Homo sapiens: one gene and its partners. The protein of the gene in region 2 purifies or fractionates together with the protein of the main gene of each other region. This does not show direct contact. Each region holds a gene or a part of one and is shown on either strand. Other genes may lie near its edges.

The links.
Region 1: the proteins of MYLK (region 2) and PPP1R12A purify together in Homo sapiens (affinity purification with mass spectrometry, with the first as the bait; one large-scale study listed by BioGRID). This does not show direct contact.
Region 3: the proteins of MYLK (region 2) and RHBDD1 purify together in Homo sapiens (affinity purification with mass spectrometry, with the first as the bait; one large-scale study listed by BioGRID). This does not show direct contact.
Region 4: the proteins of MYLK (region 2) and GARS1 purify together in Homo sapiens (affinity purification with mass spectrometry; one large-scale study listed by BioGRID and IntAct). This does not show direct contact.
Region 5: the proteins of MYLK (region 2) and TARS1 purify together in Homo sapiens (affinity purification with mass spectrometry; one large-scale study listed by BioGRID and IntAct). This does not show direct contact.
Region 6: the proteins of MYLK (region 2) and ALDH2 purify together in Homo sapiens (affinity purification with mass spectrometry; one large-scale study listed by BioGRID and IntAct). This does not show direct contact.
Region 7: the proteins of MYLK (region 2) and UACA purify together in Homo sapiens (affinity purification with mass spectrometry, with the first as the bait; one large-scale study listed by BioGRID). This does not show direct contact.

Annotation. Positions count from the first base shown.
Region 1 is NC_000012.12:79,795,598-79,799,097, forward strand, and holds part of PPP1R12A (protein phosphatase 1 regulatory subunit 12A), read right to left. Parts: intron 2,988-3,500; coding exon 2,897-2,987; intron 1,799-2,896; coding exon 1,598-1,798; intron 1,354-1,597; coding exon 1,185-1,353; intron 163-1,184; coding exon 41-162; intron 1-40. UniProt on the Homo sapiens protein: Key regulator of protein phosphatase 1C (PPP1C). Mediates binding to myosin. As part of the PPP1C complex, involved in dephosphorylation of PLK1. Capable of inhibiting HIF1AN-dependent suppression of HIF1A activity.
Region 2 is NC_000003.12:123,699,333-123,702,832, forward strand, and holds part of MYLK (myosin light chain kinase, smooth muscle), read right to left. Parts: intron 2,446-3,500; exon of another isoform or gene 2,178-2,445; coding exon 2,106-2,177; exon of another isoform or gene 1,978-2,105; intron 1,674-1,977; coding exon 688-1,673; intron 1-687. UniProt on the Homo sapiens protein: Calcium/calmodulin-dependent myosin light chain kinase implicated in smooth muscle contraction via phosphorylation of myosin light chains (MLC). Also regulates actin-myosin interaction through a non-kinase activity.
Region 3 is NC_000002.12:226,902,054-226,905,553, reverse strand, and holds part of RHBDD1 (rhomboid-related protein 4), read right to left. Parts: intron 1-3,500. UniProt on the Homo sapiens protein: Intramembrane-cleaving serine protease that cleaves single transmembrane or multi-pass membrane proteins in the hydrophobic plane of the membrane, luminal loops and juxtamembrane regions.
Region 4 is NC_000007.14:30,601,378-30,604,877, reverse strand, and holds part of GARS1 (glycine--tRNA ligase isoform 1 precursor), read right to left. Parts: intron 1,845-3,500; coding exon 1,756-1,844; intron 1,383-1,755; coding exon 1,306-1,382; intron 1-1,305. UniProt on the Homo sapiens protein: Catalyzes the ATP-dependent ligation of glycine to the 3'-end of its cognate tRNA, via the formation of an aminoacyl-adenylate intermediate (Gly-AMP).
Region 5 is NC_000005.10:33,439,565-33,443,764, reverse strand, and holds the start of TARS1 (threonine--tRNA ligase 1, cytoplasmic), read right to left. Parts: upstream 2,801-4,200; 5' UTR 2,679-2,800; coding exon 2,622-2,678; intron 1-2,621. UniProt on the Homo sapiens protein: Catalyzes the attachment of threonine to tRNA(Thr) in a two-step reaction: threonine is first activated by ATP to form Thr-AMP and then transferred to the acceptor end of tRNA(Thr).
Region 6 is NC_000012.12:111,814,983-111,818,032, reverse strand, and holds the end of ALDH2 (aldehyde dehydrogenase, mitochondrial isoform 1 precursor), read right to left. Parts: 3' UTR 501-3,050; downstream 1-500. UniProt on the Homo sapiens protein: Required for clearance of cellular formaldehyde, a cytotoxic and carcinogenic metabolite that induces DNA damage.
Region 7 is NC_000015.10:70,666,059-70,669,558, reverse strand, and holds part of UACA (uveal autoantigen with coiled-coil domains and ankyrin repeats), read left to right. Parts: intron 1-96; coding exon 97-2,835; intron 2,836-3,500. UniProt on the Homo sapiens protein: Regulates APAF1 expression and plays an important role in the regulation of stress-induced apoptosis. Promotes apoptosis by regulating three pathways, apoptosome up-regulation, LGALS3/galectin-3 down-regulation and NF-kappa-B inactivation.

The DNA of each region.
Region 1 (3,500 bases), on a different chromosome or scaffold from region 2:
CAAGAATACTATCAAATAATGTATTTTAATAGGTTCTCACATCTTGTGTCCAAAATGAAACTCCTGTAGATCTTCTTTTCTCTCTTGGTCGTCGTCGTTCTCTGATTGATTTAGGTTGTGATTTATCTTCTCCTTCTTTCTCCTCTTCTCTTTTTTCTCCCTCTGTTAAGGATTGCAATGAACCACAATATAGCAATATATCTTGACAATATTTTGCAAGGTAATTGTAAAAACAATGGGTAAAATGGGCCAGGGGACTATCTAGGGGGATGGAAGGTAGGCAGCTGCTACTACTTAGCTCCAGCCAATTGTTGGTATGTGAGAATTCAGATCCAGTGTTGCCAGGTCAGCCAACTTTTCAAGAAATGGCAAAAATCTGAAGTTTGAAGTGAGTATCTCTAATTTTAAATGTTGGTTCAACATTTTTACAAACACAATGCAGGCCTCACACATAGAAGTTTAAAGAACTGAAACATCTCAATGATCAACATGAGAAAATATATAGCTGGAAATTGGGAAAAAACTTTATTTTCTGCTGTTTATTCTACATTACTACTGATATTATCATGACTAATACTGTAAGATTTAGGCTTTAAAATATGAAATGCCTATATTTAGTACTTATATCTGATTTAAAGTAGGAATTACTCAGAATTTAAATAGAAAGTTTATATAAAATAATAGGAAATGGTAATGAGTATCAATATGCCAATATATAGTTGAGAAAGAAATGTATTTTTTAAGAAATAAGCATAAAAATGTGTTTTAGTGAGAGCATTACATGTAGTTAGTAATTTTAGTTTACAACAATTTCACAAAAAAACATTTAAATGATATGATCTACACAGTAGGCAAGAAATAGCTTAAAGCATCTGAGAAGTACTACACTAGTAAACTGCTTCTAGAAATAGTCACCCACCAGTTCGATATTAACTTTTCGTTGTAGGTGGACATGAAGATTTTTGTGAAGTATTAGGTTATAAAAATATTAGTATCAACAGCAGGCCATATTCTATTTCTGTTTTCTACTTTTCTCATTCTCAACCTTCATATTCTTTCTGTTTAGGTTCGATGAATCACAAGTTAGGATGCTGTTCCTTTACTGTTGAATTATTATTTAGGAAACCCTAATCCAAAGGATTATATGAAGAAAGCAAAGTGTTTTCAAAATTTGGTATTCTTACCTCTTTCATTTTCTTTTGTTATTCCTCTGGAGTAAGCAGAAGTTATGCCTACAAGACTATTTGGCCTGTTTAGTTGACTTGAAGCATACAGTGAACTGCTCATAGTAGAAAGTGAAGAGGATGGAGTGGTTGAACTTGAAGTTGATACTGGCCTATAACGCTGGTAAGTCTGTGAAACATTAAGATCAAAACCCATTTGAAACATTAAACACAATTAAAAACATAAAAATACTTAAAAATTCATTTCAAAGAAAAAGTAGTATACTAATCACGCCAAAGTAATTCAAATTTCCAGCTAAAATCCTTTACAGTATTTTGCATATGGTTTGTTGGTATATAAATCTCTTGTATGTTAAGGATCATAAGGACTATTCATACCATTTGACTTAAATGTGCTTTTGATATACTGTTACCTCATCATACGTTCTGGAGTACTTTTGTTTATATTCATCTTCTCTAGATGTTTCTGACTCCTTCTTTTCTTCTTGTTTCTCTTTATCTTGTTTCTCTTTTTCCTCTTTTTCTTTTTCTTCATTTTCTTGTTCTCTGGTTCGGGTAGAACGACTTCTTCCTATTGTTTTCTCAGCTTCTTGAAGATCAGTTAATGTCACTCCCTGCACACACAAAAAGATCAATATAATTATGAGATGCATTAAAGCTTGTTTCAAGGAATATTTTAGAAATAGATATATTACATACAAATGCATTAAAAGTCAAATATGCATGTTTAAAATTGGTTTGCAAATGGAAACAGCAAGTTACATTCATTCTATGAAGAATCACCATTAGCAAGCACAACGATAGGTACTGGATACTCTATGCATATAAATGTTCCCCACAAGTTCAAACTAGAGAAGAATAGCCAGTATCTGTACTGTTTGTATATTATAAATATTTATGTTTATATATATGTCTGTGTGTGTGTATATATATGTGTGTATATGTATCTATATACACATGCATGATGATTGTTAAGGCTTAAAAGAGATTTCGATAAATTTTTCAAGATTTGACCTTGAAGAACAGGTTAGATTTCAAGAAGTGAAAAGTATAAAGACAGAAAAAGTATATTAAGGCCCTAGCAAATAGTTCAGCTTGAAAGCTAAGTAATGGTAAGGATAGACAGCTGAATCTGGACTGTGGAGCTTCTTAACTGTGGGAAAGCAGAAAGACACAAAAGTATACATCATATACAGCATAATCAGAATGGCAAAACGGAGGTAAGGAGATCGCCAGCCTGAATGACATTTTCTTCATACTTGCATATTAGTTGTTTATACCTAATATACGAGCCTATTCTCTGCCCCCGATTTCCAAATATTCATAGAACTTTTAAATACTTATTAGACATCATATGATTAATTTATTCTAACCAAATACTCTGGGCCAGACACTGTATTAGGAATAAGGATTTAAAAAATACTCAAAAAGACACAAAGGCATATGCTAATTAGATGAAATACAATAGTAGCAGTGTAACCATACAAAAGGCTATGAGCAACCTTTACCTTTTAAGGATTTATTCACACTAGAATTACTAGAATAACTACAGCAACCTTTACCTTTTAAGGATTTACTCACACTATATACTGACATCAATATTTTCACAACAAAGTGAAAAAGAGAAAGGTAACTTGTTTTATGTCAGTGTGTGTATATATATTTTATATGCTACTTATGTAAGTTTTATATATTAATTACATTAACTATACCTGTGTTGATCTTCTAGATTGTCTTGCTTGTCTAGATCTTGCTTTTCTTTGGGATTCAGACTCTTCATCCCTAACAGGAGTGAGGTATGATCTACAGTAGTAAATTGAAAAATCGTTAGTTGTAAATACAATACCTGTGAATGTAAATATCTATCAATGCATATGAATAAAACATACAGGTTTAATATCTTAGTAAGTTTTAAGGAAAAGTCTTCAGAAAATGGTCTTTGAAATTCAATAATGCAATCTTATAATTTCTTTTTAGATTGGAACTAGTTATATTTTAATAATTATATTTTAACATCACATTTTAACTTCCTAACTACATTTTTTAAAATAATGTAATTTAATTTTAAGATGGAACCACATTTTTAAAAAGGATTTAGAGAACTGAAGATTAAAAATTTTAGCTCTATTGAAAAAAATAGAAGGATTTCATTTAGCCCAATTAAGCAGAATGGATAAGGAGTAAATTTTTTGTCTGTTTTTAACTGAGGAAGGTCCTCTTCTCCAGCCCTGAAAACATCCCCCAAAAGTGATAATCTAAGCATCTTACTTAATGACCTACTAAAAGGGGTTTTAAATTATTCTCTACCTACAGTAT
Region 2 (3,500 bases):
CCCTCCTCTCCCCACCATCCAAGAATGTGAAATACCAGCAAACAAAAGTCTCATCCAAATTAGGAAGCGAGTAGCTCTGTCTGCCCGTGAGTGTGTGCTGTAGGGGCTGTTTTGGGATTTTGGGTTTCCCGACAGATCCCTTCAAACCCACAGTGCTATCAAGACTGAAGTTATTGTTGACCCCAACTCAGAGCTCCGTGCCATCTGGTCACTGCACACCGTTCCCCAAACCTAAGATGCTTCTCTAAACAGCTCTTTACTCAGAGCTTCTCCCTGGCTCCAGCCTCTGTGTCCCCCACCTCCAAGCCTGTAGACAGAGCCCTCTCCATGCCGGAGCTTGGAATTAACTCAGGCTCAGGTCTCCTCTGGGGAGCCACAGGTGGCGGTGCCATGAGAGGGCTCTGCCAGATGGGTGCCGAGATGTGGGCATGTGCCACAAGGACCAGGATCCCAGCCCTTAGCCCCAGCCTTGGTGCATGTACCCAAGGCCCCTGAGCCGGGACCTATCCTTGAGTTAGCAGGAAACAGGGACGCGGCCCTCCTACCCAGCAGGCCCTCCTACCTGCTAAACCAGGTTAGCAGCCTACCTATGGGCTGCTAACAGGGGTCAGCGAGACCAACGCTCCATGAGCTAGGAGTGGCCCTGGTACAGAGGCCCCTTCTTCCCCAACCCCCATGCTCATTTACCTTCCTGGGAGAGGATGATGAACTTGGTGGTCTTGAGGGTCTTTCCGTTCAGCGTCCAGATGATGGTGGCTGGGGGGTCAGAAGACACCTGGCACTGGAGCAGCAGCTTCTTGCCCTCTGCCACATGAACATCTTGCAGCTTCTGCTTGAAGGCTGGGGCTGTCCCCTGGCTCTCTGATCTCTTTTCATTATCTGTGGTCCCTGCATGGCCTCTCTTGCAGTTCACATCATTCTTAACGTCTTTCTTGAGTTCTTCTTTGCTAGCGGATTTCAGGTTCTCATCAGGCTTGGCATTGCCCATGGGCTTCAGGGTCTCGGCAGGCTTGGCGTTGCCCATTGGCTTCAGGGTCTCAGCAGGCTTGGCGTTGCCCACGGGTTTCAAGGGCCCTGAAGGCTGTGCATTGCTCAGGGGCTTGGAACTCTCCACTGCCTTGGCATTCAGGGTCTCGGCACTGCTGCTGCCATTCTCTGCTGGTAATTTCTTCTTGCCACCCAGCACTGAGCGAAAATCCGGGGTGGCAGGTTTTGGCGGTGGCACCTTCTCAGGCACGGGGGTCTTGGAAGTCCCCTTCTTGGCCAGGACAGAGCGAAAATCGACCTGCTGGGGGCTGTGCACCTTCCTCTCTTCCTCAGACACAGTCTTTGGCTTCACTTGCCGCTGCAGGTTGGCACGGAAATCCATCTGCTCGGCTGGGATCTCCTTCAGGTCGTCTTCCGATAGGGTCTTTGTACTCACCTTCTTCCCCAGGAGGTCTCGGAAGTCCAGCTGCTCCACCTCCTGCTGGCGGATCGCCTCCTCAGTGTGCTGCCTCGTCTCCACGCGCCTCTTCAGCACCCCTCGCACGTCCTCGCCGTCTTCCTCCTCTAGCCAACCCTGCCCTCTTGCTGGCCAGCCAGGCCTCAGGGACCCATAGCGGTCACTACCACCACCATCAGCACCAACTCCTCCACCACAGAGGTCCTCGCAGCTGGCAGGCTCCCTCCCCCTGCAACCAGTGTAGGGAAAAAGGAAAGTAGCAGGAGGAAAAGGGGCTGGGTAAGAAAGAAACTTCAGGGGAGAGCAAATCCCTGAGGGTGGGAGGGTAGAGGGGAGCGGGAGGGGATGGGGGAGGCCGGCCAGGCTGTGTTTATAGATGGGAACATTGGTGAGAGGCGCTCGCTTGCTTAGTTGGTTTATTACATCGGTAATGACTTCAGTAGCCTTATAAGGGTGTGTGCAAAAAAAAAAAAAAAAAAAATCACCCCCTCCTTCCCCTGCTCTCCCTCCCTCATTCCCCTTCCAGGCTCTCCCTTCTGGCTTTGGCAGCCTCAGCTGCAGGACACAAACAATCTAGGGCTGCTGGGCTGGAGCTGCCGGGGCCAGGAGGAAGGTGGGGATGGGGGCATGGCCTGGAGGGGCAGCTCCTGGGGGCACTCACCGTGGAAGGGCTCTGGCAGAGCTGTTCTGTAGCATCAGTGACACCTGGCAACTGCATTCGCCAACCCGGTTCCTGAAGAATTCCAAAGATCAATAAAGATCAAGAGGCCCTCTGGGCAAAGGGCCTGTTCAGTGTGGACTTGATCACAGGCTGCTGGCCAGCGGGGAAGATGGAAGTCGCCGGCTTGACTGAGACATTCACCCCAGCCTTAGATTTAGGGCAGGACCCTCTCACTGTGTGGTCACCCTTTATTTTCTCAGCTCTTATTTAAAAAGAAGAAGAAAAAAAGAATGTCTGGACAACAGCTAAGGCAGGCATCCAGAAATAGGAACACTTTTCTGTAAGTATATAATATAATCATTCAATCAATCACTCACTCACTCAACCAATAAAAGGGGAAGGAGAAAGGCTAACCCTGCTGGGAACTGTGATGTAGCAGGTTGGTCTAGACAGATAGGCCCTGGTGGTGGGCCTGCCCAGTGACCTTGACTCTGACTCCATGATCCCTTAACACAGAAGTAGTTCCTTTCCCTCTCTTGCTCGGGAATGGAAGCACCCTTAACCCCCACTCATTGATAATGCTCTCAGATCAGAACTTTTTGTGTTAAAAACCCAACAAGTGTTTTCCTACATGAGTGGCCCTTTCTCTTCTTCCTTCAGGTGGGGAGGGCTCTGGATTCTTCATGTCCATAAACCTGGTCAGTCTCCTGCTGGTGCACAGAGGCTCAGGCCCTCTGCTCAGGGGAGGGGCTGTACCCTGTCTGGCTACAGTGCAGTGGATTTGCAGCAGATTGTCCCTCCAACCCCATAAGGCTGCCACCTGCTGGCATTTCTGAGCTCTGACCAGACAAGAAGGTTCTGCTCAGGCTAGGGGAAGGGGTGGGGGCAGGTCTGCGAGCCAGAGGTGACTAGTGATGGTTGTAACAACTGCATTTCATACAGCACCCTCCAGCTTTCATGACACCCACACGCAGTTCTTTCTTGATATCCACAGCATGCCAGAGAGGTATAGAGTACTGCCATGCCCAATTTAAAGATAAGGAAAGGGGGCTCTGGGGTGGGACCCTCAGGGTCTCTGACAACAGTGCTCCCACTCATGCCCCTGGATGTGGCCGTCTCACTAGCACTCAGACCCAATAGCAGATGTGCCAAGCTCTGTGACAGATTCTTTACATGAGCCATCTCATTTAATCTTAGAACAGCTCTGTGAGATTAGAGTCACCACTGTTTTTATAAGGTAAGAAATATGAGGCTTATAAAGGTAAAGTAGTCCAGGCGCAGTGGTTCATGCCTGTAATCCCAGCACTTTGGGAGGCTGAAGTGGGAGGATTGCTTGAGCTCGCACGTTTGACACCAGCTTGGGCAACATAGCAAGACCTTACCTCTATTAAAAAA
Region 3 (3,500 bases), on a different chromosome or scaffold from region 2:
TCACAGAATACTCCGGTGTGTGTTTAAGCCCTTCCAACACTTGGCCTTGCCCATCTCTGCAAAGTCAGAGGGTGGAGACCTCATCGTCTACTACCTCCATTCCCACATGCCCCACTGTCACATCCCCCAAGCACTCTCTGACCATAGGCTAAGCCAAACAGCACCTCTGTCAAAAAATGCCACCCCAGTTGAAGAGCCGTTCTTTCCTTCTCCTGCCTCCCCTCAGAGCTGAGGCTCCTACCTTATTCTGGCACGAAGCCAGTCTGCTGGTGGCACAGTACTTACACGTCTGCCTGCCTGTCCGTCTCTCTCTGTCACACACAAACTCCCTGAGGGCAGCAATGGTGTCTCATTCATACATTATACAAAATTAGAAGCTTAAAAAAAAAAAAAAGCCAAGCAAATGAACGCATTCCCACAGCCTGGAATAGTGACCTCTCATTCCAGAAGGTGGGAAACTGAAAGTTATGAAAGAGCCTGATGGAGACTCCAAGAACATAGCCTTTATGTGGCTTTTACATATGTATTCCAAACACCCAGGACAGGGCCAGGCACATGAGAGGCACTCAAGGATATGTTGAGTAAATGGCTCAAGTGTGCCAGGACCGTTTCACCAAGACCAACAGGAGGTAAGTTAAAACCACTAGATGTTCAGCTCAGGGTGCTTGCTGAGCCACGGCAATCACAGAGCTAAGAATCCGCCATTTGGTAACCTACACGAGACTCAGAGTCAAAACCAATACATTTCGCCTACTATGGCAGCAGCCTAGGGGAGATTCCCTGAAACACCACAAGCAAGATGGTTCTGAGTAATTTTCTTTGTCTCCAAGCTATGAAAAGACTCGCTGGCTCTCAGGAAAAGAACATGCAATGAGGAACACTTGAAAGAAAGAGACAAACAGGAGCCTTGTAAAGAGAACAGCATTGATGCTTGTTCCCATTAGCTGACTAAATGACACTATTGCCCAGACAAGCCCTCACATACATGCACACGTGCTAAAAGTCATGGCACATGCATGCGCGTGCACACACACACAGACACGCACACACACCACATACACGATCATCCCCTCAGGAGAGCATTATTTTCATCAGATATATCTACTGAAACAGGAGTTCCCTGACCCCCCTCCCCCCCCGCTTGCAGGATGTGCCACAGTGGTGTAACTTGTCTGTTTGGTGACCGTGCATGCTTAAACCCCTTACGGGAAGGGGAGCACACAGATGGGCAGGTGCAGGAGCTGGGATGAGTGCCCCTAGGCTTCAGCCTCACGGCAACGTCCAGGGGTGTGTATCTGCGACTCCTGAAACCCAAGTGGGTGTGTGTTACAGTGCGCTCTTTTAACCTTGCGGTCCACAGGCAGCTTAAGGGTTAGACAGCTCAGTGAACCCTCTGCCTTTCCACAAAGGCAGAGGGCCAGTGTGAAAGTTTTCTGTTTCCCTGTTTCTTCTCTGGCATCCAGGAAAAATCAGATCACACGTGGACTTGAAGGATGAATGTGGGGCTTTTATTGGGTGATGGAGGTGGCTCCCAGTGGGATGGATGGGGAGGTGGAAGAAGGATGGAGTGGGAAGATGGTCTTCCCCTGGAGTTTGGCTGTCCAGTGACATATCTCCTCTCCGATCATGTCCAGGTAAACTCCCTCTTAGCATTCAGATGCTCCTTCTCTCTGTTGCGCCGTTCTGCTATTCTTCTGCTCTTCTGTTCATCTCCTTGTCTCCTTCTGGAGCCTGGGGTCTCAGGTTTATATGGATACAGGAGAGGGGGGTGTGGTGGGCCAATAGGCAGCTTTTGGATGCAAAAACAGGAATGCCTGTTCCCATTTAGGGCTGTGGGTTTCCAGGCTTGAGGGTGGGGCCTTTGCTGGGAACCGCCCTCTTCTACCCACTGTTTCTGCCTCCTGTCCGTGTCACTACTTCATATAATAAAATTATGGGATTGAACATTTTTTCCCATTTTCTGGCAAGAATAGTAGGAACTATGCTTTTAGCTCCCCAGCCAAGCTAAGAAATTCTATAGTCACCCCCCATTATCTGCAGACCCCCAACTGGATGGCTGAAACCACAGATAGTACTGAACCTTATATATACTATGCTTTTCTCATCTCATAATCATAACAGCTACTAAGTGACTCACGGGTGGGTAGCAGAGACAGCATGGACACACGGGGCAAAGAGATGATTCACGTCCTGGGTGAGACGGGGTGAGATTTCACCATGCTATGCAGAGCAGTGTGAAATTTAAAACTTATAAATGGCTTATTTCTGGAATTTTCCATTTAATGTTTTTGGATCAAGGTTGACTGGGGCTAACTAAAAATGCAGAAGGCAAAATCACAGATAAGGGGGACCACTGTACTTATTTTATTCTATGCTCAGGCTCAGTACAATCGGCCACCTATTAATAGTTGTAAAAATGACAAAGAAAGTGGCAGTTTGAGAGATACAAAGAAGTGGCCAGGACCAGTTAAAAAAATAATAATAACTTCAATTTAGATGAAAAGAATATAATAATATTGGTATTTCTGAAACTCTGGTTTCAAATCAACCTTCATGGTGAAGCATATATGATATAAAATAACATAGAAGGAAGTTTCAATTTAAAACTTCAACCTATTAAACAATTAATCTTGAATCTCATTTACAATTTAGAGTACAATACAGTGAAATGAATTTCTTATCTATCTCTAAATGGTTTTCAGAAGTTTGAGTTATAATCTAATTGCCCTAATATAATTTCAAATATCTAGGGAAGGGAGGCTGGCAGTCCGGAGAACTCATTGCGTCATCCTCCAACATTCAGCATTTTCCACAAAAGTTCCATCTCAAAAATTTAACTGGTCTTGTTTCATTTAAGCTTTATAAAAGTGTTCAATTTTAAAATAAAAATGAGATTATGATCTTATTCAATCAAAACTGAGAATCTCTCAACATCACACACATAAAAAAACAGGAGAATGAATTTCACCAATGTAAAAGGAATATAAAAGTCATTTTAAGAGGTAAATTAACTTTCTCCATGCCCTTGGTAACCATTTGACAAATCACTTCCCTTCACCCTCTAAGAGATACCCACATCCTGAGCGAGAAGATAGATGGACCTGCAGACAGGGAGAAAACTGAACTGGGAAGGTGGTTCTCACCAGTCCTAGGGTTAGGGCACTTTACCCCTGAGCTGGGGGTGCTGTGGAGACAGAAAGAAGCCCTGGGCTTTGGGGGAAGATGATCCATCTGAATGCTCTGATCAGTGGCTGGGATCTACCTTCAAACGTAACAGCATCAAAACCAGACAGTATTGTTACAATCATAATTAGATGTGTTAAACAGAAGTTGTGAAGCTTGTGGTCTCTGAATAAGCCTGTGGCTTCATTCTGTTCTTAGCTCCACGTGGAAGATGCCATCCGAAGCAGCATTCAGGGACAATCCTGCAACTAGGAACAACTTCCTGTTGACCTTACTAGGTCTTAGGCTAGGACTGGGGATTTGGTTATGACCTACCA
Region 4 (3,500 bases), on a different chromosome or scaffold from region 2:
AAACATATACACAAAACCTCAGTAAATCTAAAATTCTGAATGGAAAATTTTAGGGATACTTAGAGGCATTTTCCATTTTTTCTAATAAAGGGCATGCCTTTGGATAAGAAAATGAGATGAACGTGTGGCTTCAACAGTATCAAAATGTAAGAAATAATTTTCTAAACCATGAGTAATTACTAAAACAATGAGCTTCAAGCAAGGGATAAAATTACACTCCACAAGTATCAAAATAAATCAGCAGATGATTCAACAGCCAAATTAAGAAAGTTTTCAATGTAAATGAAGAAGGAGAAATTATTTTAGCTATGTTGGAAAGTTAACTATCACAGAGAAAAAAAGCATGCTAAAAAAAAAATTAGGACAACAGTGGAAAAGTATCCAGTAATTCCCATGAAAAACAACATATTAGGGAGTTCTATATTCAGGCAGAGAGAGAGAGAGAGATCGGTGTAAAGAAAATAGGTATAATCACAGTATTGGTTTTTTGTTTTTTGCCCAAGGAAGTAAATAAAATTTAAGAGGTGAGCCTCAGTAGACCTCATGACTAAACATGGTGTTGGAGAAATGTACTTTGCCTAAACGGAATAGCCAACAGATGAGGTGAGACACCAGCAACATATATACATGAGCACATGCATCTTCCCAGGGAGACGTGCAGTTTTGATCACATTCTTAGGGTGGTCTGTGACCCAACAAAAGGATAAGAACTACTTCTAATATAGAAAGTATTCCTGCAATTGGTAAAAGGTCAGAATAAATTATCTCTGTGGTCTCTTTTTTGTCTTCTCTAAAATTTGTCAGCTTAAATATTATACAAATTATAAAACTTTAGGCCTATAGGCAAACTGAGAAAAGCAAGGACAGAAAAGTCAGGACCTGCTCATGAGGTTCTAAGAATAATAGCATGAAATCAGGGTCCAAGCAGAGGCAGATCAAGTAGCCAGTGAGAAAGTGCTCATCAAGTTATCTGCCCCGAAGTCTCCACACCAGTGCTGAACACTACCCATCATCAGTCACTCCTGTGGTTTTAGCTATTAAATCCAGAAAAGTAGTTTCCAAGGTCAGACAAATTGAATGCCTATTAACACGGACTTGTTAGTTTGGGCTGAAATAAAGGGTTAGTCACAAAAGAGAGAAGAAAATAAAAATGCAAAAAAAGAGACGCTATACAGGACAGAATTAACCTCTGCTTCATTACAATGTGGCCAGGGTCAGCATAATGGGAAATGCAACAGTCATTAAACACTGAAAGAAGGACAGCGACCACCTAGGTTACTCTGATAACATCTCTAGAGTACTCACCTGGGCCAAAACACTTTCCATTTCTGATTTCTTTTCGACAGAACACTTCTTATCAGACATCAATTTCTGTAAATGAGCTGTAAGAACAGTGTTGACATATATCAATCAATGGGAAAAAGGACAATGCACTTTTCAGTTTCAATGCTAGACAATTAAAAAGTAAATCCAAGCATAAAGTTCTTAATTTACATGAATCCCACAGTTGATTTTACAACAGCAGTCATGGTATTGTCTTGATTCATTTGCTAATTAGAAAAATTATCTGTATATAACTAATTATCTACATATAACTTTTTTAAAAAATAAAGGACTTGATCTATATACTTAAGATCTGTGCACTTTGCTCTTTGAATGTTATGCCTCAATAAAAAATTTAATGAAAGACATCTGAGAGAAAGTTTAAACCTTTTATTTTGATCAATCCTACCTGAAGGAGATGAAGAACCTCACCTTTTAATAGATGGTCAGCACGAAAACATTCTCCATTTTTTACGTCTTTCACCATGAAGTCAGCAAATTTGTCTACATGGCCAGAGGTCCTAAATTAACAAATGCCAACCCAATTTGTCATTCTCATACAAATTACACATAGATATTACCTTATAAGATAATTCCCCATCAATATTTATATCCATCTCAAAGATGGAAGCTCCCATATCTATAGTAATGATGTATCCATGACAGTAATGGATGCCAGAGAAAATTCTTCCTCAAATCTATTTCTCACCCTCTCCCACATTCTTCCTTCCCATAAGAAAGAAGACATTAACTAGACAATAAAAAGACAATTCTTTTCTACAAGTTGTCATAAAGTCTGTACTATTCTTCAGGATCAATTAATCCATGCCTATGCCATTATTATTAGTGATCTAAGCAAAGGCCAAAATCACTGGGAATTTGACTAGTTAAGAATTCATGGCAGCTCAGTATAGACATTGAACCTTAAGGGAAGTGTTTTCTGCCACTGAAACCTGTACTGACATTGGTATTATCTCTACAAAGTTCCTATTGGTGGAACAAGTAGCTAAAATGATAGGTAGTCCTGATCTTATAGAGCCATCATTCAGAATTCCTCCTCTTCATTGGCTGAAATTATTAAGAGAACCTAACGGATGCCAATAGTAAAAATTAGCTCTCCACCAGTCAACCTTAAATGAATAATGACGAGTTACAAAATGGCAAGAATTCCTCTTTCAGGCCGGGCGCAGTGGCTCACGCCTGTAATCCCAGCACTTTGGGAGGCCGAGGCAGGCGGATCACGAGGTCAGGAGATCGAGACCATGGTGAAACCCCGTCTCTACTAAAAATACAAAAAAATTAGCCAGGCACGGTGGCAGGTGCCTGTAGTCCCAGCTGCTCTGGAGGCTGAGGCAAGAGAATGGCGTGAACCCGAGAGGCGGAGCTTGCAGTGAGCAGAGATCGCCCCACTGCACTCCAGCCTGGGGGACAGAGCGAGACTCCATCTCAAAAAATAAATAAATAAATAAAAGAATTCCTTTCAGTTTCACATTCTGAAATTCTGCCCTACTTTGGGAGGCCGAGGCGGGCGGATCACGAGGTCAGGAGATCGAGACCACCCTGGCTAACATGGTGAAACCCCGTCTGTACTAAAAATACAAAAAAAAAATTAGCCAGACGTGGTGGTGGGTGCCTGTAGTCCCAGCTACTTGGGAGGCTGAGGCAGGAGAATGGCGTGAACCTGGGAGGCAGAGCTTGCAGTGAGCCGAGATCAAGCCACTGCATTCCAGCTTGGGCGACAGAGCAAGACTCCATCTCACACACACAAAAAAAGGAAATTCTGCCCTACTTTCAATAACGTTGGTAGGAATAATCTAAGTTTCTGCATTGAAACTTTAAAACAAATAGTATTTAACTGAAAATCTCTACAAGTATACCTTTGCTCAGAACTTGTATTAAGGAAATAATCAAGGATATACCCAAAAATCCATCTATCAAGATATTCGGTGCAGTCAAAAATGAGAAACACTTTAATGCTTTCAATATGGCACAAACTAACATATTATGGCACTTCCATAAAACAGAATACTATGCTATCATTAAAAATGCTTTAGATGAATAGTTAATGATATGAGTATATGTTCATCAATATTACATGAAAATAAGCAGTGTACTGCTAACACTGAAATACATAGGGACGTACAGAAAAAACAGGAAGGACAAACACAATCATCTTA
Region 5 (4,200 bases), on a different chromosome or scaffold from region 2:
CCAGCACTTTGGGAGGCCGAGGCGGGCAGATCACGAGGTCAGGAGATCGAGACCATCCTGGCTAACACGGTGAAACCCCGTCTCTACTAAAAAATACAAAAAAAATTAGCCGGGCGTGGTGGCGGGTGCCTGTAGTCCCAGCTACTCGGGAGGCTGAGGCAGGAGAATGGCTGGAACCCGGGAGGCGGAGCTTGCAGTGAGCAGAGATCGCGCCACTGCACTCCAGCCTGGGAGACAGAGCAAGACTCCATTTCAACAACAACAACGACAACAAAAAAAAAAAAAAAAAGAAAGAAAAATTGCAGGTCTGTGCAGGTTTAAAATGGAAAGATGATAAAATAAGTTTTATATTTCTGATAAGATTATTTTGGTTTTGACCATTTGCCAAATGAACAGGGGTAGTGAGAGAGAGAGAGAGAGAGAGAGAGAGAGAGAGAGAGAGAGGGAGAGAGAGAGAGGGAATCACCACAAAGGTTTTCTGGTTCTAAATACGGCTCCATTTTACAAACAAGAACACTGGCTCAAAGAAGTAACTTGCCCATTTGTATCATTAAGTAATAGAGCTGGGAAATTACAACAGGTCTCTCTGGAACCCTGAGGCCTATGACCCCTTTTCTACAACACTGGGAAGAGAGTAGGCAACTGTTCTCTATTTCCCTGAGTATATATGGTATGTACATCTACATACAAGTAATCTAAAATCTCAACCCAAAAGTTGGGAAACAGAACCGGATTGTGAAGAGAAGCTACAGAATTACCTTTCTCAGGAATGATCTGTCCCTGACTCACTCAGAACAGCACAGGGGTTATTAGTATTGGCTATAGGATACTGGGTTTGAGGAAGGAAAAAAACGGGGATACTGGGTTTGAGCAAGTTACTGTTCCTACGCCTGCTTTCTCATCTGTATAATGGAGATAATAACAGAACCCACTTCACAGCGTTATTAAGAAGACTGAATGAGGCCGGGCGCGGTGGATCACGCCTGTAATCCAAGAACTTTGGGAGGCCGAGACGGGCGGATCACGAGGTCAGGAGATCGAGACCATCCTGGCTAACACGGTGAAACCCCGTCTCTACTAAAAATACAAAAAATTAGCCAGGCCTGGTGGCTGAGGCAGGAGAATGGCATGAACCCGGGAGGTGGAGCTTGCAGTGAGCCGAGATCGCACCACGGCACTCCAGCCTGAGTGACAGAGCGAGACTCCGTCTCAAAAAAAAGAAGACTGAATGAGTTAATTCATGGAATGCATTAATACAGTGCCAAACTCGTATTTAGTACTCAAAATAAATATTAACTATTGTATAATTATTACAGGAAGGAAAAATTACATATGTGTTAACCATACATATCACGTCCAATTAAGAATAGCACAGGAGAATATTTATGGACATGGAAAGTTGTTGACCACATTCTATTAAGCAAAAAAAAAAAAAAAAAAAAAAGTTACAAAACAGTAAAAATATCATTTTATGTGAAAAAAATCTACGTATAGTCACCATTTATCATCTAGAATTAAATTTACATAGTTAGAATGTGCCCGTATGCAGTTTCTCCATTCAATCTCGAGTGGACAATCAAGAAAAAAATTTGGCTTTTAAGTGAACTGTCCTGTCACAGACTTGGGATAGAGGATCCCTTAGCTGAAGACGTCACCACTTCTCACTTGGACTATTACAACAGCCTTCTGCATGTGGCCTAACCTTCTATCCCAATGCCAGCGTGACTTTTACAAATACAATCTTCCTGCTTAAGATCCTTCATGTATAGAATACAAGTTTCAAACATCCTTGTTGCCTAAGATCCTTCTGATTACTGTTCCTTTAACCCTTCTGGCATATCTCTTGCAAACAACCCGAAAGACAATTCACCTGCGTGCCCCTTTTCACTGCCTTCCCTACCTTTACGTGGGAAGCCCCGTCCTGCCTGTTTACCTGGTGAAATCATTCTTCCAAACTAAATTCTAAAGTGCCTTCCTAAACTTCCTCTTCTGTAATACCACAAGGTTGATCACAAAGCACTAGGGCTGTTTTCCTGTCTCTTACACATCAGCCTGTGAGGCCCTCAAAGTCGGGGAACTGGGCCCTATTCATCTTCCCACATGCACCGCCCAGATCAGTGCCGGGCAAAATGTATACTTAACCACCCAAACTTGGACAAGCTGGGTCAGATCTCGGGCACTCGGTTTTCCTTTCCTTAAAATGGAGCTCTTTACCCCCGCAGGATCTTAGGAGATTGATTAAATAAGGCTCTGCAATGTGTTTCCCGCTTACAGTAAGCCATAAACGCAAGTTTGGAAGCCTCAAGCCTAAGATTCTGATTCTGTCTCCGCGTCTAACTACTGTAGATGTGAGGCTCTGAACAAGTCGCTCACTCAAGGTCTGTTTCCTCATCTGTAAAGAGAATGGACCCACAGATGAACTGCAAGGCCCCACCCTAATTTATGAATGGATGGTTCCCAAAGGGGGTTCCGACTTTCCAGGAGTCCCACCATCCCCCACTTCTCCGACCCACGCGGTCCCGGCCGCTTCCTGCTTCCTGCCCCCCGCTCCCGCCGCGAGCGTAGCGTCTGCACCCACTAGAGTCCCAGGCTGGTCTCTGGGTCCCACCAAGTTTGCTCACCGGCTTCTCCTCGCCTCCCATCTTCCCTGAAGGACTGCTGGCCTTCTCCTCAAACATTGGCGAACGACGAAGCGATGAGAGAACCCGAAAGCGACGGCCTAGAGGAGAGGAGCCAAGAGGCGGGTGGGAGGTGGGCTAGCGCCCGGGACTTGGCCTCGGCTGGACCAGCTGATGCAATCGAAAGGCGCCCTAACCCCGCCCCCAACTTGCGGCGGAACGAGCAGCCAATGGATAACGGGGGAAGGCGGGCCCTCCCTCCTCTAAGCCAGTGGAAAATCTTTTCGGGTGACAGAGCCCTTCTAGGAAATCAGGTCGCGGAGGGTGAGGAGGAGCAACTGCAGAAGCTACATGCCTACTCTCCGCTGACCTTGGTCTGGACGCTTTCCAGAGTCAAGTCCCCAATGCGCGTGCGCCTTTCCTCCCTTCTGACTTTATGTGGAACAATCATGGACCTTCCCGGACACCGTAGATAATAAGTAGGTCTTGGTCTAAACTTCCGGGAAGTTTTCGGCGACCTGGATACCATCTTCGACACGGGGACAAATCCCGGGATGGAGTCCAGGGTTTCCCGCGGCTTCGGCGCTTCCTGACCTGGCGTGACTGCCGACTTGTCGGCACCACCCAGGCCTCAGGCTCCCTGTCTGTAGTGGTGAATCGACCTTCCTCATGGCAGTCCAGGCTTCCCAAGCCCCATGTCCTGTTGATCCGGGACAAACTCTTCCTTGAACGTTCTTCACTACGAGCCGCTGCTGATCTGTACTGCCTGGAGGAGCATTTCCATAGCGCCCGCAAAAATACAATAAAGCTCACCCAAGGAAATAACCATGGATTCTCACGCCTGGGTGCCAGTGTTTGGAATCGACTGGGCTTTTTTATGTTAGTAGGCAATTTAAAACAATTACTTATTTGAAATCAGAAGCGCAATAGGCATAACTTCAGGTACGTGCTCCACCACCACGTTTTGTGGATTTTTCTTTTTAAACATCAGTTCTGTTCTCTACAACTCTCCGCCTTCAGGGTTATACTTTCCAGGAACAATAGCTTCCCAATTCGGCTTTGTGCATCCATTTTTCATACAGCATCGTTGTAGTCTTCAAATACAAATATGATCACGGCAATCTGCTGAAAAATCTTTGGTGGCTTTCCCTTGCTCTTGGACAATCCCTGATTGTCCAAGTTTTCGGCTTCATCTCGTTCGCCCACCATACACTGAACTATAAACTGTAGTGGCTTTTTTTCCTCAGGTCTTCCCACAGACTAAGTACCAAGATTTTTCCACCCTACCCTCATCCGTGCTCATTCCGACACACTTTTTGCCTGTTTGACACCTCATTTATTGTCAGATTTCAAGAATCGTTTTCTTCGGGGAACCATTTCTTGACTCCCTTACTGGATGAAACAAGCCTCCCTGTTAAACAGTGTTGGAGGCGCAGAAACATACCCCCAAATAATGGCGTTTTGACATCTGAACTGAAGAAGCCTCAAGGTCCCACTCCCCTAAATCCCCACGCCATCTCTGCCAAAGCAAAGGATAAAGTTTAGACACATCACAAGGAACATAATTGTTTTTGTTGCCTCC
Region 6 (3,050 bases), on a different chromosome or scaffold from region 2:
CTTGGTTCTATTAATGTAACAGGTGTGCTAACCAACCATTCCCGGCCCAATCACCCTAATCGTGCTGACTATATGGAATGGATTCCCTTCGATAGTTACTACCCCCCAAGACATGGACCCAATGTCTTGACCCACTGGCTAGAAAACAATCTATGTTAACTGGAGACATTGTGGATTGGGGACCTAAAGGTCAACTATATGGAAAACATGAAAATCAGAAATCATGGCACAAACTTCGCTGGCATTGGTGGCAAGATTTTAATGCTTCTTCTTTATACCACACCGGGATCTAATCCCAGTCTGCCACCCAGATTGCTTGACATGGAGCAGGCTTTAGCCCGCCTCTTCCTCAGTGGCATTATCTAGGGAGGAAAGGACCAATCCAAGAGATGTTATGGAAGGCAGCACTCCCATTTATGAATGGCGGGATACTATCCAGTGATAGCAATAGTAAGCAACACAGTCTTAATGTTACATTTGTAAAGAATATCACCACTCAATTTATGGTTTGTCTTTTTAATCCTTATGTCTTTTTTGGCAACTAAGAAGGACCAGCTCCAGGTAAACAATATCCAATTGACCTGTAAATCTTGCCAGTTATGTCACTGCATTAATCATAGCACATTGCAAACACATAATGTCTCTACTTTGATAATTTTGGGTCGCATCCCTGGGCTATGGATTCCTGTTAATCTGTCCCAGCCTTGGGCTACCACACCTGCTTTGCACTTCATGAAACATCTTCTAACTCAACTTACTCATTGTGCCCATAGAGCCTTAGGCATGATAATTTTTGCTATTGTTTCCTTGGTCACATTAATAACTTCCGTTGTGATGTCCTCTGTAGCTTTGCATAGTTCTATTCAAACAACTCAGTACATGGAAAACTGGATGCGTATAGCCAACCAAGCATGGCCACTTCAGAATAAAATTAACACTGAGTTACAAACTGAAGTGGCATTGTTGAAATCCACGGCTCTACAGTTAGGAGAACAAGTACAAAGCTTGCAATTGCAACAGCAATTGCACCATCATTTTAATCACACTCATATTTGTGTAACCAACTTAGAATATAACCAAAGTGAGTATCCATGGGACCTTGTGAAAGCCCATTTGCAGGGAGCTTGCACATCCAACATCACCTTTGATATCGGTGAATTACAAAACAAAATTCTTGATTTAAATAAACAAACTCAAGAGTTTCAGCCTTCTTTAGAAGACTAGACCAAATTCCAGCAAGGCCTGGAGAGCCTCAACCCTTGGACCTGTCTAAAGCACCACATTAACATCTTATATGTAGTCCTTGGAATAATGTTGTTTTGTCTCTGTCTTCTGTTCATAGTCTGTAAAATTGGATGGACTGCCAATCAGAAAATGAGAGCTGCCCAGCCTGGCCTTACATTCTTTCAATTAATTCATAAACAGAAAGGGGGAAATGTAGAGAGCTGAATGCCCATGGGTTGTGACCAACTCAGCATTCCACTGAGGCTATATGATCAAACAGCAAACTGTTTATCATAAATGCAGAATGTGGGCAAACTCACTTCTGCTTCAGCCGCCAGAAGGTTCGCTGAGGGCAATCACTCCCTGGCGCCATGCTCTTTGAGGTTATCTACTGAGACATCTAGAGCCTACTGTTCAAAGAATGCAATCTTGTGAGCCTGCTGTGAATCAAGCTGCTGACCGACAACCACCCCCCCTTCTCCCTATCTCCTTTACCCAATAAATACAAAGGGCACTAAAGCTCAGGGCCCTTTTTCACTAGAAGCAAGGAGCCCCCTGACCCCTTCTTCCAAATATACTCTTTGGTCTTTATCTTTATTGCTGTGTTCGTCCCCTTTTGTTCAGTCCAACAGGGATTAGGTCCACGTCACCTTTTAAACAACCAGCTCTTGAGTGAACTCATTACCATGGGGGAGGACACCAAGCCATTCATGAGGGATCCACCCCCATGATCCTAACACCTCACACCTTGCCCCACCTCCAACACTGAAGATTACATTTTAACATGAGATTTTGAGGGGATAAATATCCGTACTATCAGAGAGGTTACTTCAAATGTTCAGGTGCATGACATTTTGATATAGCTTTAAAAATAAGCTATTAGGGCTGTGCCCAGTGTCTCATGCCTGTAATCCTAGCACTTGAGAGGCCAAGCCAGCAGGATGACTTGAGGCCAGGAGTTCGAGACCAGCCTGAGCAACATAGCAAGACTCCATCTCTCTCTCTCTCTCTCAAAAAAAAAAAAAAATATATATATATATGCATGGTAGTGCACGCCTATAATCCCAGCTACTCAGGAGGCTGAGGTGGGAGGATCACTTGAGCCCAGAAGTTCAAGACCAGCCTAAACAACACAGTGAGACCCCATCTCTACAAAAAATAAGCCATTAGACTCTCAGGTTATTATTTTTATTATTGCCAGGTATCCTCACCCTTACTCCTGGCATGGAAGATACAGTAGGAGTCATAGATGGCTGTAGGTCAGGTGCTGTCTCATAAGTAAGCCATATCGCCAGGCATCACATCTATGCTCTCACTCTAATATATGTATATTGTAACCCCTTCTATGTGCCAAGGCAGGAGGATCACTTCAAGCCAGGAGCTGAAGACCAGCCTGAGCTACATAGTGAAACCCTGACTCTCCAAAAATAATTAGCTGACTGTGGTGGCACATGCTTGTAGTACCAGCTATTTGGGAGGCTGAGGCAGAAGAATCACCTGAGCCTAGGAGGTAGAGGCTGCAGTGAGCTATGATCGCACCACTGCACTCCAGCCTGGACGACGGAGTTAGACCCTGTCATTAAAAAATATAAAAAATGAAAATATTGTTAAGAAGCTCTTGAGAAGGCTCCAAGTACAGTTCCTGGCATGTAGTGGGTGCACAGTTAATACTTCTTGGGGCCACAGGATTGGGCATCAGATTTACATTTCACTGAAACTTTCTATACCATCTGCATCTATTTCCTTTTGAAAAATGTAAATAAAATCAATACAAATGAACAAATGTCAGCTCTGTTTTATCCTTCACAGAATAAGCCAAATGAGAG
Region 7 (3,500 bases), on a different chromosome or scaffold from region 2:
TGATGATGTGCTAACTTTCTCTAAGTTTGGCAAATAAGTATAGTAAATGTCTCATTTAGGCTTTTGTGATTGATGTCTTTTTTTTTTTCTTTTCAGTGTACTTCCCCAGGTATACCAGCCCATATGCAAAGCAGATCTATGTTAAGACCTCTGGAACTATCTTTACCCAGTCAAACGTCATACTCTGAAAATGAAATTTTAAAGAAAGAGTTAGAAGCAATGCGAACTTTCTGTGAGTCAGCAAAACAAGACCGACTGAAGCTCCAAAATGAACTGGCACACAAAGTGGCAGAATGCAAAGCTTTAGCATTAGAATGTGAAAGGGTCAAGGAGGATTCAGATGAACAGATAAAGCAATTAGAAGATGCATTAAAAGATGTGCAGAAGAGGATGTATGAGTCAGAAGGTAAAGTTAAACAAATGCAGACCCATTTTCTTGCCCTTAAAGAACACTTAACAAGTGAAGCAGCCTCAGGGAATCACAGACTAACCGAGGAACTGAAGGATCAGTTGAAAGACTTGAAAGTAAAATATGAAGGTGCTTCAGCAGAAGTGGGGAAATTAAGAAACCAAATCAAACAAAATGAGATGATAGTAGAAGAGTTTAAGAGGGATGAAGGCAAGCTGATAGAAGAAAATAAGCGATTACAGAAGGAACTTAGTATGTGTGAAATGGAGCGAGAGAAGAAAGGAAGAAAGGTCACAGAGATGGAAGGCCAGGCAAAAGAATTGTCAGCGAAGTTGGCCCTTTCCATTCCAGCTGAAAAATTTGAAAACATGAAGAGCTCATTATCAAATGAAGTGAATGAGAAAGCAAAAAAATTAGTAGAAATGGAAAGAGAACATGAAAAATCACTTAGTGAAATTAGACAGTTAAAGAGAGAACTTGAGAATGTTAAGGCCAAGCTTGCTCAGCACGTCAAACCAGAGGAACATGAACAGGTTAAGAGCAGATTAGAACAGAAATCAGGAGAACTTGGGAAGAAGATCACTGAGTTAACATTGAAAAATCAGACACTACAAAAGGAAATTGAAAAAGTTTATTTGGATAATAAGCTCCTCAAGGAGCAAGCACATAACTTAACAATTGAAATGAAAAATCATTATGTTCCTTTAAAAGTAAGTGAAGACATGAAAAAGTCACATGATGCAATTATTGATGATCTTAATAGAAAGCTTTTAGATGTAACACAAAAATATACAGAAAAGAAGTTGGAAATGGAGAAATTGCTACTGGAAAATGACAGCTTAAGTAAGGATGTAAGCCGCCTAGAAACTGTGTTTGTACCTCCTGAGAAACATGAAAAAGAGATAATAGCTCTGAAATCCAATATTGTTGAACTTAAGAAACAGCTGTCTGAACTTAAGAAAAAATGTGGTGAAGACCAGGAGAAAATACACGCTCTCACATCTGAAAACACTAACTTGAAGAAGATGATGAGTAATCAGTATGTGCCAGTTAAAACCCATGAAGAGGTTAAAATGACACTGAATGACACGTTAGCCAAAACTAACAGAGAATTATTAGATGTGAAGAAAAAATTTGAAGATATAAATCAGGAATTTGTAAAAATAAAAGATAAGAATGAAATATTAAAAAGAAACCTGGAAAACACTCAGAACCAAATAAAAGCTGAGTACATCAGCCTGGCAGAGCACGAGGCAAAGATGAGCTCGCTAAGTCAGAGCATGAGAAAGGTGCAGGATAGTAATGCTGAAATCTTGGCCAACTACAGAAAAGGCCAAGAAGAGATTGTGACACTGCATGCCGAAATTAAAGCCCAGAAGAAGGAGCTCGACACAATACAAGAATGCATTAAGGTAAAATACGCCCCAATTGTCAGCTTTGAGGAGTGCGAGAGAAAATTTAAAGCAACAGAGAAAGAACTAAAAGACCAGTTATCAGAGCAGACACAAAAGTATAGTGTCAGTGAAGAAGAAGTCAAGAAAAACAAGCAAGAGAATGACAAGTTAAAGAAGGAGATTTTTACCCTTCAGAAAGATTTGAGAGATAAGACAGTTCTCATTGAGAAGTCTCATGAAATGGAAAGAGCATTAAGCAGAAAAACAGACGAGCTAAACAAACAGTTAAAAGACTTGTCACAGAAATACACGGAAGTAAAGAATGTGAAAGAGAAGCTAGTAGAAGAAAATGCCAAACAGACTTCTGAGATACTTGCAGTGCAAAATCTTTTGCAAAAACAACATGTTCCATTGGAACAGGTTGAGGCTCTGAAAAAATCTCTTAATGGCACAATTGAAAATCTAAAGGAAGAACTGAAGAGTATGCAAAGGTGTTACGAGAAAGAGCAGCAGACAGTGACCAAACTGCATCAATTGTTGGAGAATCAAAAGAACTCTTCTGTACCCCTGGCAGAGCATTTGCAGATTAAAGAAGCATTTGAGAAAGAAGTTGGAATCATAAAAGCCAGCTTGAGAGAAAAGGAAGAAGAAAGCCAAAACAAAATGGAAGAAGTCTCCAAACTTCAGTCGGAGGTTCAGAATACTAAACAAGCATTAAAAAAATTAGAGACTAGAGAGGTAGTTGACTTGTCTAAATATAAAGCAACAAAAAGTGATTTGGAGACACAGATTTCTAGCTTAAATGAAAAATTGGCCAATCTGAATAGAAAGTATGAGGAAGTATGTGAGGAAGTTTTGCATGCCAAAAAGAAGGAAATATCTGCAAAAGATGAGAAGGAATTACTGCATTTCAGCATTGAGCAAGAAATTAAGGATCAGAAGGAACGATGTGATAAGTCCTTAACAACAATCACAGAGTTACAAAGAAGAATACAAGAATCTGCTAAACAAATAGAAGCAAAAGATAATAAGGTAGGTACAAAGTAGTCTGCACGGCTATGTGTTGGAAACCCCAGAGCAGTGCTCTTTACCACAGAATCTCACAGGAAAGTAGACACAGGTATTAACAAAGTGACCCTTTCCAGTTTAGCAACTTGCGTGCAAAAATTCCGAATTGAAAAAAAAAGTGAAGTAACACAAAAGTCAAAAGCATTTTTCCTTCTGTTTCTTTAGCTGTTCTAGCCAAGAATTCAGGAACGATGGGGAGACTTAAGGCTCACTTGTCTCATACATGAAGAGTCAAAAGCCAGTGGGTTTGTGGCATATGAAAGATGGGGAAGAGGGTGGTGGGGAAGCTCTCTTTCTGGGCTGCAAGAAACCAAGAACACTGGGGAGCATCTAGAGTTGATCTCGGTACTCACCCATAGTAGTAAACTGAGCCCTCCAATTCATTTTATGTTCTGTTGCTCATGTCTTTCTACAGACTAGAAAGTCTACATCCCCTCACCCAGAATGTCCTTTCCCTCCTTTCTACTGAGTTGAATCCTATACATTCATTAACATGTTATCCTCCTTCTTAAAGCCCTCACTGTCCAATCTAGTCTATAGTAAACAGTTCCTCCTCTAAGGTGGATGTTTTACTGTGGCTTTGCCATCCATTTAAAACATTTATATTACCTTGTTAGAATTATGTAGTT